4 linked regions of the Homo sapiens genome follow. The protein of the gene in region 1 interacts with the protein of each later gene in a biochemical or structural test. Each region holds a gene or a part of one and is shown in the gene's direction. Other genes may lie near its edges.

Evidence for each region. Proteins that work in one complex are often made in the same cells at the same time.
Region 2: of the proteins of MBP (region 1) and TRPM7, one has a biochemical effect on the other in vitro, tested with the Homo sapiens proteins (one study listed by BioGRID).
Region 3: of the proteins of MBP (region 1) and HIPK2, one has a biochemical effect on the other in vitro, tested with the Homo sapiens proteins (one study listed by BioGRID).
Region 4: of the proteins of MBP (region 1) and PRKCI, one has a biochemical effect on the other in vitro, tested with the Homo sapiens proteins (one study listed by BioGRID).

The regions. Positions count from the first base shown.
Region 1 is NC_000018.10:76,978,333-76,980,558, reverse strand, and holds the end of MBP (Golli-MBP), read left to right. Parts: exon of another isoform or gene 1-87; coding exon 88-132; 3' UTR 133-1,726; downstream 1,727-2,226. UniProt on the Homo sapiens protein: The classic group of MBP isoforms (isoform 4-isoform 14) are with PLP the most abundant protein components of the myelin membrane in the CNS. They have a role in both its formation and stabilization.
Region 2 is NC_000015.10:50,589,298-50,592,797, reverse strand, and holds part of TRPM7 (transient receptor potential cation channel subfamily M member 7), read left to right. Parts: intron 1-171; coding exon 172-887; intron 888-3,141; coding exon 3,142-3,206; intron 3,207-3,500. UniProt on the Homo sapiens protein: Bifunctional protein that combines an ion channel with an intrinsic kinase domain, enabling it to modulate cellular functions either by conducting ions through the pore or by phosphorylating downstream proteins via its kinase domain.
Region 3 is NC_000007.14:139,575,499-139,578,998, reverse strand, and holds part of HIPK2 (homeodomain-interacting protein kinase 2), read left to right. Parts: intron 1-3,500.
Region 4 is NC_000003.12:170,302,424-170,306,477, forward strand, and holds the end of PRKCI (protein kinase C iota type), read left to right. Parts: intron 1-616; coding exon 617-704; 3' UTR 705-3,554; downstream 3,555-4,054.

The DNA.
Region 1 (2,226 bases):
CATCCACCCGGGACCACAGAAGAGGGGATGCTGGTGTGGGAGGACCCTGCGGCACTCTCGTCCTAACTCCTCTCTCTTCCTTTTCAGGGAGGAAGAGATAGTCGCTCTGGATCACCCATGGCTAGACGCTGAAAACCCACCTGGTTCCGGAATCCTGTCCTCAGCTTCTTAATATAACTGCCTTAAAACTTTAATCCCACTTGCCCCTGTTACCTAATTAGAGCAGATGACCCCTCCCCTAATGCCTGCGGAGTTGTGCACGTAGTAGGGTCAGGCCACGGCAGCCTACCGGCAATTTCCGGCCAACAGTTAAATGAGAACATGAAAACAGAAAACGGTTAAAACTGTCCCTTTCTGTGTGAAGATCACGTTCCTTCCCCCGCAATGTGCCCCCAGACGCACGTGGGTCTTCAGGGGGCCAGGTGCACAGACGTCCCTCCACGTTCACCCCTCCACCCTTGGACTTTCTTTTCGCCGTGGCTGCGGCACCCTTGCGCTTTTGCTGGTCACTGCCATGGAGGCACACAGCTGCAGAGACAGAGAGGACGTGGGCGGCAGAGAGGACTGTTGACATCCAAGCTTCCTTTGTTTTTTTTTCCTGTCCTTCTCTCACCTCCTAAAGTAGACTTCATTTTTCCTAACAGGATTAGACAGTCAAGGAGTGGCTTACTACATGTGGGAGCTTTTGGTATGTGACATGCGGGCTGGGCAGCTGTTAGAGTCCAACGTGGGGCAGCACAGAGAGGGGGCCACCTCCCCAGGCCGTGGCTGCCCACACACCCCAATTAGCTGAATTCGCGTGTGGCAGAGGGAGGAAAAGGAGGCAAACGTGGGCTGGGCAATGGCCTCACATAGGAAACAGGGTCTTCCTGGAGATTTGGTGATGGAGATGTCAAGCAGGTGGCCTCTGGACGTCACCGTTGCCCTGCATGGTGGCCCCAGAGCAGCCTCTATGAACAACCTCGTTTCCAAACCACAGCCCACAGCCGGAGAGTCCAGGAAGACTTGCGCACTCAGAGCAGAAGGGTAGGAGTCCTCTAGACAGCCTCGCAGCCGCGCCAGTCGCCCATAGACACTGGCTGTGACCGGGCGTGCTGGCAGCGGCAGTGCACAGTGGCCAGCACTAACCCTCCCTGAGAAGATAACCGGCTCATTCACTTCCTCCCAGAAGACGCGTGGTAGCGAGTAGGCACAGGCGTGCACCTGCTCCCGAATTACTCACCGAGACACACGGGCTGAGCAGACGGCCCCGTGGATGGAGACAAAGAGCTCTTCTGACCATATCCTTCTTAACACCCGCTGGCATCTCCTTTCGCGCCTCCCTCCCTAACCTACTGACCCACCTTTTGATTTTAGCGCACCTGTGATTGATAGGCCTTCCAAAGAGTCCCACGCTGGCATCACCCTCCCCGAGGACGGAGATGAGGAGTAGTCAGCGTGATGCCAAAACGCGTCTTCTTAATCCAATTCTAATTCTGAATGTTTCGTGTGGGCTTAATACCATGTCTATTAATATATAGCCTCGATGATGAGAGAGTTACAAAGAACAAAACTCCAGACACAAACCTCCAAATTTTTCAGCAGAAGCACTCTGCGTCGCTGAGCTGAGGTCGGCTCTGCGATCCATACGTGGCCGCACCCACACAGCACGTGCTGTGACGATGGCTGAACGGAAAGTGTACACTGTTCCTGAATATTGAAATAAAACAATAAACTTTTAATGGTATTTGCATGGGTGTCTTCTTTTGTGTTCCGGGCTGTAGCACACAGGCCCACATCAAGCGAGAGCCAGGTGTGCAGAGCAAATGTGACTCGGTGCCTCTGGGTCTCCAGGCAGGGCTGCCTGGCGGTGCCTGTTGGAGGGGGCATCCTCATCAGAGGGTCGATGGCTACTGAAGAAAGTGGAACAGAGGTAGTTGTTAGGGCACTGATTCTCTCACCAGGAAAAAAATATTTAGTGTCTCTGAAGACAAGCTTCCAAGTCTGTCTGTGTTCTGCTGTGTGGCTAGTGTACACACCCTGCAGATGTGAACCCAGGAGTCTTGGACGTGTTCCCCTTGCCACCTTTTTCTCTGAAAGCATGAAAGAGCGTGAAGCAATGTTTTACTTATAGTTACCTTTGGTTACAAGAATTTTTCTTCAAAAAGATAGACGAAAGTCTCTTTTGTTTTTTCTTTTTCTTTTGAGACAGGATCTTACTTTGCCACCCAGGTTGGAGTGCAGTGC
Region 2 (3,500 bases), on another chromosome or scaffold:
CTTCTTAAACATAAGGTAGGCCTTGTATAATTAAATAACTGTACCTTATTTTATATCTTGTTTAAATGCATGTGAAATTTTTCTCTTTTTATCATTATTATTTGAGGCTACAAAATAAAATTCTACATTATTTTTTCACATTTGTAAAAAAAGCTTATTTCTCTCCTACAGAGTGGAACAGATGTGCATTCAGATTAAAGAAGTTGGAGATCGTGTCAACTACATAAAAAGATCATTACAATCATTAGATTCTCAAATTGGCCATTTGCAAGATCTTTCAGCCCTGACGGTAGATACATTAAAAACACTCACTGCCCAGAAAGCGTCGGAAGCTAGCAAAGTTCATAATGAAATCACACGAGAACTGAGCATTTCCAAACACTTGGCTCAAAACCTTATTGATGATGGTCCTGTAAGACCTTCTGTATGGAAAAAGCATGGTGTTGTAAATACACTTAGCTCCTCTCTTCCTCAAGGTGATCTTGAAAGTAATAATCCTTTTCATTGTAATATTTTAATGAAAGATGACAAAGATCCCCAGTGTAATATATTTGGTCAAGACTTACCTGCAGTACCCCAGAGAAAAGAATTTAATTTTCCAGAGGCTGGTTCCTCTTCTGGTGCCTTATTCCCAAGTGCTGTTTCCCCTCCAGAACTGCGACAGAGACTACATGGGGTAGAACTCTTAAAAATATTTAATAAAAATCAAAAATTAGGCAGTTCATCTACTAGCATACCACATCTGTCATCCCCACCAACCAAATTTTTTGTTAGTACACCATCTCAGCCAAGTTGCAAAAGCCACTTGGAAACTGGAACCAAAGATCAAGAAACTGTTTGCTCTAAAGCTACAGAAGGAGATAATACAGAATTTGGAGCATTTGTAGGTAAGTTTGGCAAATTCGTATTTGTATATCAATATTATTTACTTTTCACCTTAGAAATAATAGAAATATGTACTGTTACAAGTCATTATCTTTTCATAGAGTATAATTATAAAATTTTTAAAAAGAATCAGACACCTGTGATTCTGGTACTTTGGGAGGCTGAGTGGGGAGGATTGCTTGAGCCCAGGAGTTGAGGACCAGCCTGAGCAACATAGCAAGACCCCATCTCTACAAAAAATTTTTGGAAGTAGCCAGGCGCAGTGGCATGTGCCTGAAGTCCCAGCTACTCAGGAGGCTGAGGCAGGCGAACTGCTTGCACCCAGAAGCTGAAAGCTGCAGTGGGCTGTGATCACACAACTGCACCATAGCCTGTGTGACAGAATGAGACCCTGTCTCTAGAAATGAAATGAAAAAAAAAAAAAAATCAGAAGTAGGGGAAATAGACTGAATTAGGCTATAAGAGTTATATTGGCACATAACCTCTTTGATGGAATTTTAGGTTCTGTCTTTTGAATTTGAATATCTTCAATTGGGTTTCATCAACTCTTGTTGAAAACCTAAGTGATTCTTAAGTACTTGGAGAACCTCATAGGGGAGGTTAGAATCAACTGGAAAAGAACAGTGCCCTATAAATAGATGACCATATAATTTTTTTACCCAAACCAAGACACTTTAAAAGTGAAAGGGTGCACTATTAATAATTATATCAGAACAACAATGGAAATCTAGGAATCTACTGGGAAAATTAGTACTTATGGTGTACCTATTTATATATTCACAGAGAACATTTCAAAAAGGAATGACTTATTCTTATACCTATGATAGCTTAAATAAGATAAGAACAAAAAAAAATGTTTATTTTGGCAGTAACACATTAAAGACCTTAGTGAAAACTTTCATGCATAGAGATTATTCAGACAGTATGTTAATAAGCCCATGGAAAATTGCCACATTAAGGCCAGCCTAGGAAGTTATCTAGGCACTAAACATGTTGATATTACTTCTAGGCTATATGGGATTCACTCTAGATACATAGATATAACTTTTCCTACGTTAAATATATTCCCCCTTTTTTTTTTTTTTTTAAAAGACGGAGTCTCCCTCTGTCGCCCAGGCGGGAGTGCAGTGGCACAATCTCGGCTCGCTGCAACCTCTGCCTCCCAGATTCAAGTGATTCTCCTGCCTCAGCCTCCTGAGTAGCTGAGATTACAGGCACACGCCACCACACCTGGCTAATTTCCAATTTATTTTTAAAAATGCATTTTAGCCTATTTGTTAATGTATTACCAGTGGGGTGTATGTATATATCATATATATTTTCTCTACATGTATATTATATAGGAAAAGTTACATATCTGTATATCTAGAGTGAATTCCATATAGCCTAGCAGTAAGTATCAGCATGTTCAGTGCCTGAATAACTTGCTAGACTGGTCTTAATGTGGAGATTATACATGGGCTTATTAACATGTTGTCTGAACAATCTCTATGTGTGGAACAGTTTTCATTAAGGTCATTAAAGTGTTATTGCCAAAATATTTTTGTTCTGTTTTTGTTTAAGTTATAGGCATAAGAATAAATCATTCCTTTTTGAGTGATTATCCGTATATATGTAATGCTTTTTTTTTTATTAATAGTAAAAATGCTTGGTCCCCTTTTTTCTTTTAAATTTCGAGCTATTTATTCATATCACATGTTGGTTTGTTTTATAAGGACTTTGGCTTTTAACGTTACTGTAAACTTAACTATAATCTTGGCCAGGTGCGGTGGCTCAGGCCTGTAATCCCAGCACTTTGGGAGGCCAAGACAGGCAGATCTTGAGTTCAGGAGTTCAAGACCAGCCTGGCTAACATGGTGAAACCCTGTCTCTACTAAAAATACAAAAATTAGTCAGGCATGGTGGCACGTGCCTGTAGTCCCAGCTACTCAGGAGGCTGAGGCAGGAGAATTGCTTGAACCCGGGAGGCAGAGGTTGAAGTGAGCCAAGGTCACACCACTGCACTCCAGCCTGGGCAACAGAACGAGACTTGTTCTCAAATTTAAAAAAACAAAAAACAAAAAAAACTGTAACCTTCACCAGCTTCTTGGCAATTTTCAATTTTATTTATCAAAAGAGCTAAAGGAGACTGCAGAGCCATCAAGTGTACTTGAAAAACAGCATAAACCTATTGTTTTTATAAACTTTAAGCAGTGCCATTATTTCGGTGAAGAAAAATAAAAATTTCTCATTGCAACATCTTTTTTTCTATTAAAGGACACAGAGATAGCATGGATTTACAGAGGTTTAAAGAAACATCAAACAAGATAAAAATACTATCCGTAAGTAAATCCTTATTAAAACACCCACAGTTCTATTTATTTTACTGTCTTGATGTTTAGTTCAAAATTTAATTAAACATTTTTTCAGCAAAAATACAGTTTTAGCAGATATCATTAACATGCTGATACCAAATATTTGAAGCTGTCCTCAGTTTGAAAAAATGAACAATTGAGGAACATGAAAAGGTACAAACAGCTTGCGTAATTATACTCACTAAATAAAAAACATCAGCTATTTAACATTTCTCTCTTTTTTTTTTTTTTTTTTTTTTGAGACGGAGTCTCGCTGTCACC
Region 3 (3,500 bases), on another chromosome or scaffold:
AAAATATAAATCACAGAAATATAGCTGTCCGGCACGGTGGCTCACGCCTATAATCCCAGCACTTTGGGAGGCCAAGGGTGGGGCAGATCACCTGAGATCAGGAGTTCGAGACCAGCCTGGCCAACATGGCAAAACCCCATCTCTACTAAAAAATACAAAAAATAGCCAGGTTTGGTGGCACACACCTGTAATCCCAGCTACTCGGAAGGCTGAGGCTGGAGGATCACTTGAACCTGGGAGGCAGAGGTTGCAGTGAGTCGAGATTGCACCACTGCACTCCAACCTGAGCGACAGAGCAAGACTCCACCTCAAAATAAAAAAAGGAATTTAGCTGTCCTCCATAGAAAGTCAAGGTGATAAAAATATTTCAAGCACATTCCAGAAACTTAATGAAGAAAAATAACTGAGTACAAGATACAACACATGAAGTGCTCAAATCAACAAAGGATGGCGGAAAGGAGGTTACTCATTACCTTTCTCTCTTAAAATGCGCTCCCTTTTTCCTGGGCAAAGTCTTCCTCAGTCTGGTTCTTAGACTAAGAATCAGTACCATGGCTGGGCACAGTGGCTCACGCCTGTAATCCCAACACTTTGGGAGGCTGAGGCAGGCAAATCACTTGAGGTCAGGAGTTCACGACCAGCCTGGCTAACATGGTCAAACTCTGTCTCTACCAAAAATACAAAAATTAGCAGCTGGGCGCGGTGGCTCATGCCTATAATCCCAGCAGTTTGGGAGGCCAAGGCAGGTGGATCACAAGGTCAGGAATTCGAGACCAGCCTGGCCAATATGGTGAAACCCCGTCTCTACTAAAAATACAAAAATTAGCTGGGTGTGGCAGTGGGCGCCTGTAGTCCCAGCTACTCGGGAGGCTGAGGCAGGAGAATCACTTGAACCCGGGAGGCGGAGGCTGCAGTGAGCTGAGATCACGCCACCGTACTCCAGCCTGGGCGACAGAGCGAGACTCTGTCTCAAAAAAAAAATTAGCTGGGCGTGGTGGTGCATGCCTGTAATCCCAGCTACTTGGGAGGTTGAGGCACGAGAATCACTTAAACCTGGGAGGCAGAGGTTGCAGTGAGCCAAGATCACACCACTGCGCTCCAGCCTGGGAGACAGAGCAAGACTCCATCTCAAAAAAAAAAATCAGTATTGTTTCTGTGCACATCTCACCCCAGCAGGACTGGTTGCCCAAGGAGGCAGGACAGCCCCCAGCCCCAGCGCCAGGCTCTTGTTCATTCCCTGGTCTGCCCTGCCCTTCTTGGTGGGGGACCATCTGCCTGTCTTTCCACCTGGAAGATGTTTTCTTCTCCATTAACTCTACTGTTCTTTAGCGTTTAAGGAACAGAAGCAATGCTTGTTGTAACTATGGTTTCTAACTATACAACACAAACCACACAGTCTTCAGGCTGCTTTGTCGTAGCCTTCACTTACTAAACCCCTCTTTTTCTGCTTCCGTTGTCATTGAAGTTAGAGAAAGGTATCTGGAATTTTCTGCCTCCCACACTTTCCTAGGCCATTATGCAGTTTGCTCCTAAAGAAGCCCAGTGTTGGCCCAGCGCGGTGGCTCACGCCTGTAATCCCAGCACTTTGGGAGGCCAAGGGCAGGTGGATCACCTGAGGTCAGGAGTTTGAGACCAGCCTGGCCAACATGGTGAAACCCTGTCTCTACTAAAAATACAAAAAAGTTAGCCAGGCGTGGTGCCGGGTGCCTGTAATCCCAGCTACTTGGGAGGCTGAGGCAGGAGAATCACTTGAACCTGAGAGGCAGAGGTTGCAGTGAGCCGAGATCGCACCATTGCACTCCAGCCTGGGCAACAAGAGTGAAACTCCATCTCAAAAAAAAAAAAAAAAAAAAAAAAAGGAAGCCCAGTATCTTCTCACTAGTCTGGGTCTGTTTGTTGCTTTTGCCATTACAAAAGTGCTTGCATTTAATGAATGGCTATGACTGGTGCATCTGGGTGCATTTGATTGGAAATTTCATTTAGGTGTGTATTAATACTGCACTGTGTGTTAGGCAGCCCTCTCCTGGAGGAGAGCTGAGGCACAGGGACATGGGGGGCTAGTAAAGCATCTCTTCTGCTTTTATCAAGGGGTGATGGTCCTGTCTGCAGAACTCCCCAAGCTGGGGTGGGGAGATGGCCCCCACTCGGCAGCAGAGCTCCCGCCCTCTGGGGCTCTTGCCCCTGCTGGGCTGGACACTCATGCCCTGTCCTGCCCTGTCCTGTTCCATCAGCCTTCTTGGACTTGGGCTGTCCCTGACTGTCAGCGTCTTCATCTGGTTTATCCTCTGGCCTCGCCACCTCATCTGCGTGATCTGTGATGCCTCCTCCTTATTCACGCTCTCAGCCTTCTCCCTGCCACCCCCGTCCCTGGTGGTACACAGTCACCGTCCTTAGCACAGGGCAGGAGCTCAGAAAATACTTGGATGAGTTAAAACCACTGGGCTCTGAAGAGGCTCCTGGCTCCCCTGGCTCTCTGGCTGGGTAACATGGAAGCCATCCAGCTCAGGGTTTAACCCACCTCTCTCAGAGCCCCTGGCTACTCAGAGCGTGGTCCCCCAAGCAGCAGCACTGGCACCCCCTGGGAGCTTGTCAGAAATGCAGGTGCTCGGGCCCCCCAGAGCTGCTGGCCAGAGTCTGCACTGAACAAGATGCAGGAATTACATTTGAGAACTGTTGATGGAGCCACCTGCTGACCATGAGGTCACCTCTGGAGGGTTGCAGTGTTTTTTCCACTCTTCAGCCCCCTTGGCAATAACATGGAGGCAGTTTTGTGCTTGGCCATGTTTGGCTCACAGGGCCATTCCCCGGATGATTTAGTCTCATCCTGCCTAGAGGCAGGTAACTGGACCAGGTGACTCTGAGGGTTATTTTAGCTTCTAGTAGTTTATTAGGTCCCACCACAGACACTGTCTCCTCTGATACTCATAGTCACCCATGGTGGGGACCAAGCAGGGATCCTGTCTTAGTCTATTTTGTGTTGCTGTAACAGAGTACCTGAGACTGGGTAATTTATAATCAATAGAAGTTTATTTGGCTCACGATTCTGAAGACTGGAAGTCCAAGAACAGGATGCCAGCATCTGGCAAGGACCTTTGTGCTGCATCTTCCTAGCACAGGAGGCAGAAGGACAAAAGAGCATGAGGGTGAGGGGGCCAGACTTGTTTTCATCAAAAAAGCCAATCTCTCAATAGCTAACCCACTCCCGAGATAATATTAATGCACTGATGAACTCATACACTCATGAGGGCTCTGCCCTCAGGACCTAACATCCCTTACTGGCCCCACCCTAAACACTTGCACTGGGGACTAAGTTTCTAACACAAGAACTTTGGGGAACACATTCAAATTATAGCAGATCTCTCCTACCCATTTTCCAGATGCTGAAAGTAACACCTCCCAGAGGAACGGCACTGGGCCTGGCCTTAGGCCACCAGCCCACCTTGCCTCTCCTGATTCTTTTCCGCTTTCCCTTGCTTCATTCCCTCATGCAGCCCCGACCA
Region 4 (4,054 bases), on another chromosome or scaffold:
AGGGACTGTATCCTCTGTAACTTTGTGCTTCTTAGTATGGCATAATACATTTATGTATTAAATATTTGATAGCACTACTCACTGTATATTAAAGTAGAAGCCCAGTGTAACAAAATGCCAACCTCTCCCCTCTCTGTGACCCATGATCTCCCTGCGGTGTTCTCTCCTCATTCCAGGTCTCTCAGTGTACTTGTTCCTATTGCCTTTTCCTTTTGGCTAACTTCTTCTGGGCTACACTATCTAACATCTGGCTGTTGAGGTGACTACTAAATTGAATGCTAATTCAAACCTGGATGTTCACCTGTAACTAGGAATGTTGTTCTGGTCAAAAGTTAAGATTAACTGGAATGGTGACAACTGGTGTCTTTTTTATTCGCAGTCCTCAGTTTTGAACTCCTTTTTGGCTCTAAACTTGCTTGTGGGATTATCGGGGTTTTTTAAATTTTCAGTACTCCATTCTTGATTCGTCTAGAAAATCTGGGGGATTAATCTAAAAATTTATAGATTTCCTTTCAGTACAATTAGCCTAATTACTTGATTTTTAATCTTATTTTACCATTTAAAGGTTGAAGAAATCTTGATTATGATGAAAATAAATTTATTTTTCTTTCAACAGTGACATTGTGAGGAAGATTGATCAGTCTGAATTTGAAGGTTTTGAGTATATCAATCCTCTTTTGATGTCTGCAGAAGAATGTGTCTGATCCTCATTTTTCAACCATGTATTCTACTCATGTTGCCATTTAATGCATGGATAAACTTGCTGCAAGCCTGGATACAATTAACCATTTTATATTTGCCACCTACAAAAAAACACCCAATATCTTCTCTTGTAGACTATATGAATCAATTATTACATCTGTTTTACTATGAAAAAAAAATTAATACTACTAGCTTCCAGACAATCATGTCAAAATTTAGTTGAACTGGTTTTTCAGTTTTTAAAAGGCCTACAGATGAGTAATGAAGTTATCTTTTTTGTTTAAAAAAAAAAAAAACACTGCATTAAAAAAGTATCTGTTGCATTAAGGCACATAGTGGGATTACATCATAAACCTCCCATAATTTTTGTCATTCTGTGTTAAATCATTTCAGGGTTTAATTTTGAAATAAAAGATTAATATAAAATGCAACAACTTTTTATATTACCTATTAGTTTTGGAGTTCTTTATGTTTAAAAATTCAGGTGTAAATTTTATTGCCTTGGATAAATAAATTATTGATCTTTTTTAAGGCAGCAGTTATTAAATTGGTAATAGAAGATGCTGCTTGCTTAGAATTGGGAAATTCGGCTGGGTGCAGTGACTCAATGCCTGTGATCCCAGTACTTTGGGAGGTTGAGGCGGGCAGATCACTTGAGGTCAGGAGTTTGAGATTGGCCTGGTCAACATGGTGAAATCCTGTCTCTACTAAAAATACAAAAATTAGCTGGGCATGGTGGCACATACCTGTAATCCCAGCTACTCGGGAGGCTGAAACAGGAGAATCGCTTGAACCCAGGAGATGGAGTTGGCAGTGAGCCAAGATTAGCCTGGGCAACAGTGAGTGAGACTCGGTCTCAAACAAAAACCAAATTGGGAAATTCTTCTTGAGTTAAAAAAGACACTTTTTATTATGAATCAGATTCCAAATCATTAACTATTTTTGCAAAACTGGCACAAGTGGTTTTTCTTTTTAAGTATATTAACAGGGTAGCTCCTGAGCCTTTCCCTTTATTGGAAACTTTAACTGCAGTGTTAATATATACACTGCAAAAGACCAAGGATGCAGTTGAATGGAAAATTACTCAGTGTATAGAAAGGAAAAAAACCAGAAATTTAAAATAGATACAGAAAAGTACACTGGTAATATTTTTATTTCCTATTGGAGAGTGAATCCCCACAGTTGCTTTTTGTGACTTGATTCAAATGAGGCACTCATTATTGTTACCAAACTTGTAAAAGCATTCCATGTATTCAGTGGAGGCAGAATGTATAATATTTTTTCCTTATAATTTAGCATACAGGAAAAGTATTTATTTTTTAAGTAGGGTATCTTAATTATGCTCATTTCTTCCCCTAAACCACATTATCTATATGATTGGACCCTTTAGTGAAATCAGAAAAATAAAGTAGGCATGAATAAATGTTCAGGACACACACATACACTCACACACATCACAGTATCAGCTCTTTCAGTGAGTTTTTATTAACTAGATAACACATGTAATACATAGTAGAATACATTTCAGAGGCAGAGTTCCTCGGATTATTTTTTATGGATATTAGTGTTCAGCAGCTTATTATTTAAAGGGGTGCCAAATATAGCATCCTTCTGTTGTTTATTTTAAATATATTTTTAATGAAAAGGGACTTAAAAAGTAAACATGATTATCTAAATTACTTAAAATTTTTTAATCTTAGTAAAAATTTTAGGAAAGTTATCTAGTTTAAATTTCAAATGTTTTAAAATTTGTAGGCATTTAATAAATTATCTTTTTTTGGAGGGGTGGATGCTGCATTTCATTGGAAATGTCATTTTTCCAAAGTTTCTAGCTATATACTCTCTTTCCTTCAAATAACATAAGTCTGAAAGCAATGAAAACGTCAAAGGAAAATGTTTATATACATCCACATGTTTATTTAATATGTTTCTCTTAACACCTGAAACTTGTTTTAAAACAAAAAGCAGTATTCACTTCAAATCATAAACTTAGAATTCTGTATCTCATGTCAGAAATATGTTTATGGCCTTGCTTTTAAGTGGTGCTGTTTCCCATAGGGCATTAGTTCTCAGATTTTGGAATGTGAAATAATCACCTAGGAAGTTGGTTTAAAATGCACACTAGTGAGCCCACCTTAGACTTCTTTTGGGGCCTTCGACCTCACTTTGAGAAATACCTTCTTCAGGTTATTCTTTATGTTTGTCCTGTGGTTAAATATTAGAGTATTCATGATAAAACATTTTGAGAAGGGGTAAGCAGTGAGTTATTACCCACAATTTAAAGCAAATTTTGAATGAATCTTTAAGTTAGGTATCTACCTTCCCACCAGCCCCCCAAAAAACCTCTCAGTAGTTTCTTTCAGTGTACAAAATGATGAGCATTTTTCTATGATGAGGTTTTAACCATTATTCAGGGTGGTCTTTTGTTTTTAAATCTTTTTTTAACTAATAAGATTTACGGTGTGTATTTTATACAGAAATGCATTATAAATGTTTTTAATTGTGTTCTGTTTTTTGCAGTCTTTAAGTGCCATGCCAATTGTTCTTATATTCTATAGAAGTTCGCTCAAAATACTCAACAGGGGAATAGGCAGCGGACAGTCAGAATGGTTGGAATTTTGGCTTTCTAAGAAAAACTTTATTTTGCATAAGCATGTGGTCAGATCATTTTGTGCATATGCAGCCTGGATTGGATGTTAAGTAAATGCTTGTTCAGTGCCGGTACATTTACTTAAATCTGTTTTTATTTTTGTCATGTAGAATACTACTGTGGTCATCATAATGTAATCTATTTCTGTACCTTTTTTTTTTTTTTTTACTTTGAAGTCTTTAAATAAAATGTATAATACCCATTGAGAGTGGATCATTTTTCATATGTAGTATGTCAGAAATTTGTATAAGAACAAAGATGCATCAAAATTTGTTCAAGAAAAAGTGAAAATTTCAGAGTTTGGAATTTTGCTGTACTTAAAGCACCATTCTGGTAGAACTGATGCTGTCGTATTTACATTTAATAATGTTACATTTAGCTGGACATAGTGGCTCACACAGCACTTTGGGAGACTGAGGTGGGAGGATCACTTGACCCTAGGAGTTTGAGTTCAGCCTGGGCAATATAGTGAGACCCCATCTCTACATACAGAAAAATAAGAAATTAGCCAGGCATGCCGGCAAAGTGCCTATAGTCCCAGGAGGCTGAGGTGGGAAGACTGCTTGAGCCCAGGAGGTTGTGGCTGCAGTGAACTATGATCATGCCACTGCACTCCAGCTTGGGCAACAAAGTGAGACCCTGTCTCTCAAAAAATATTTAATGTTATATTTATTAATGTAGATATTATTAAAAATTAGGAAT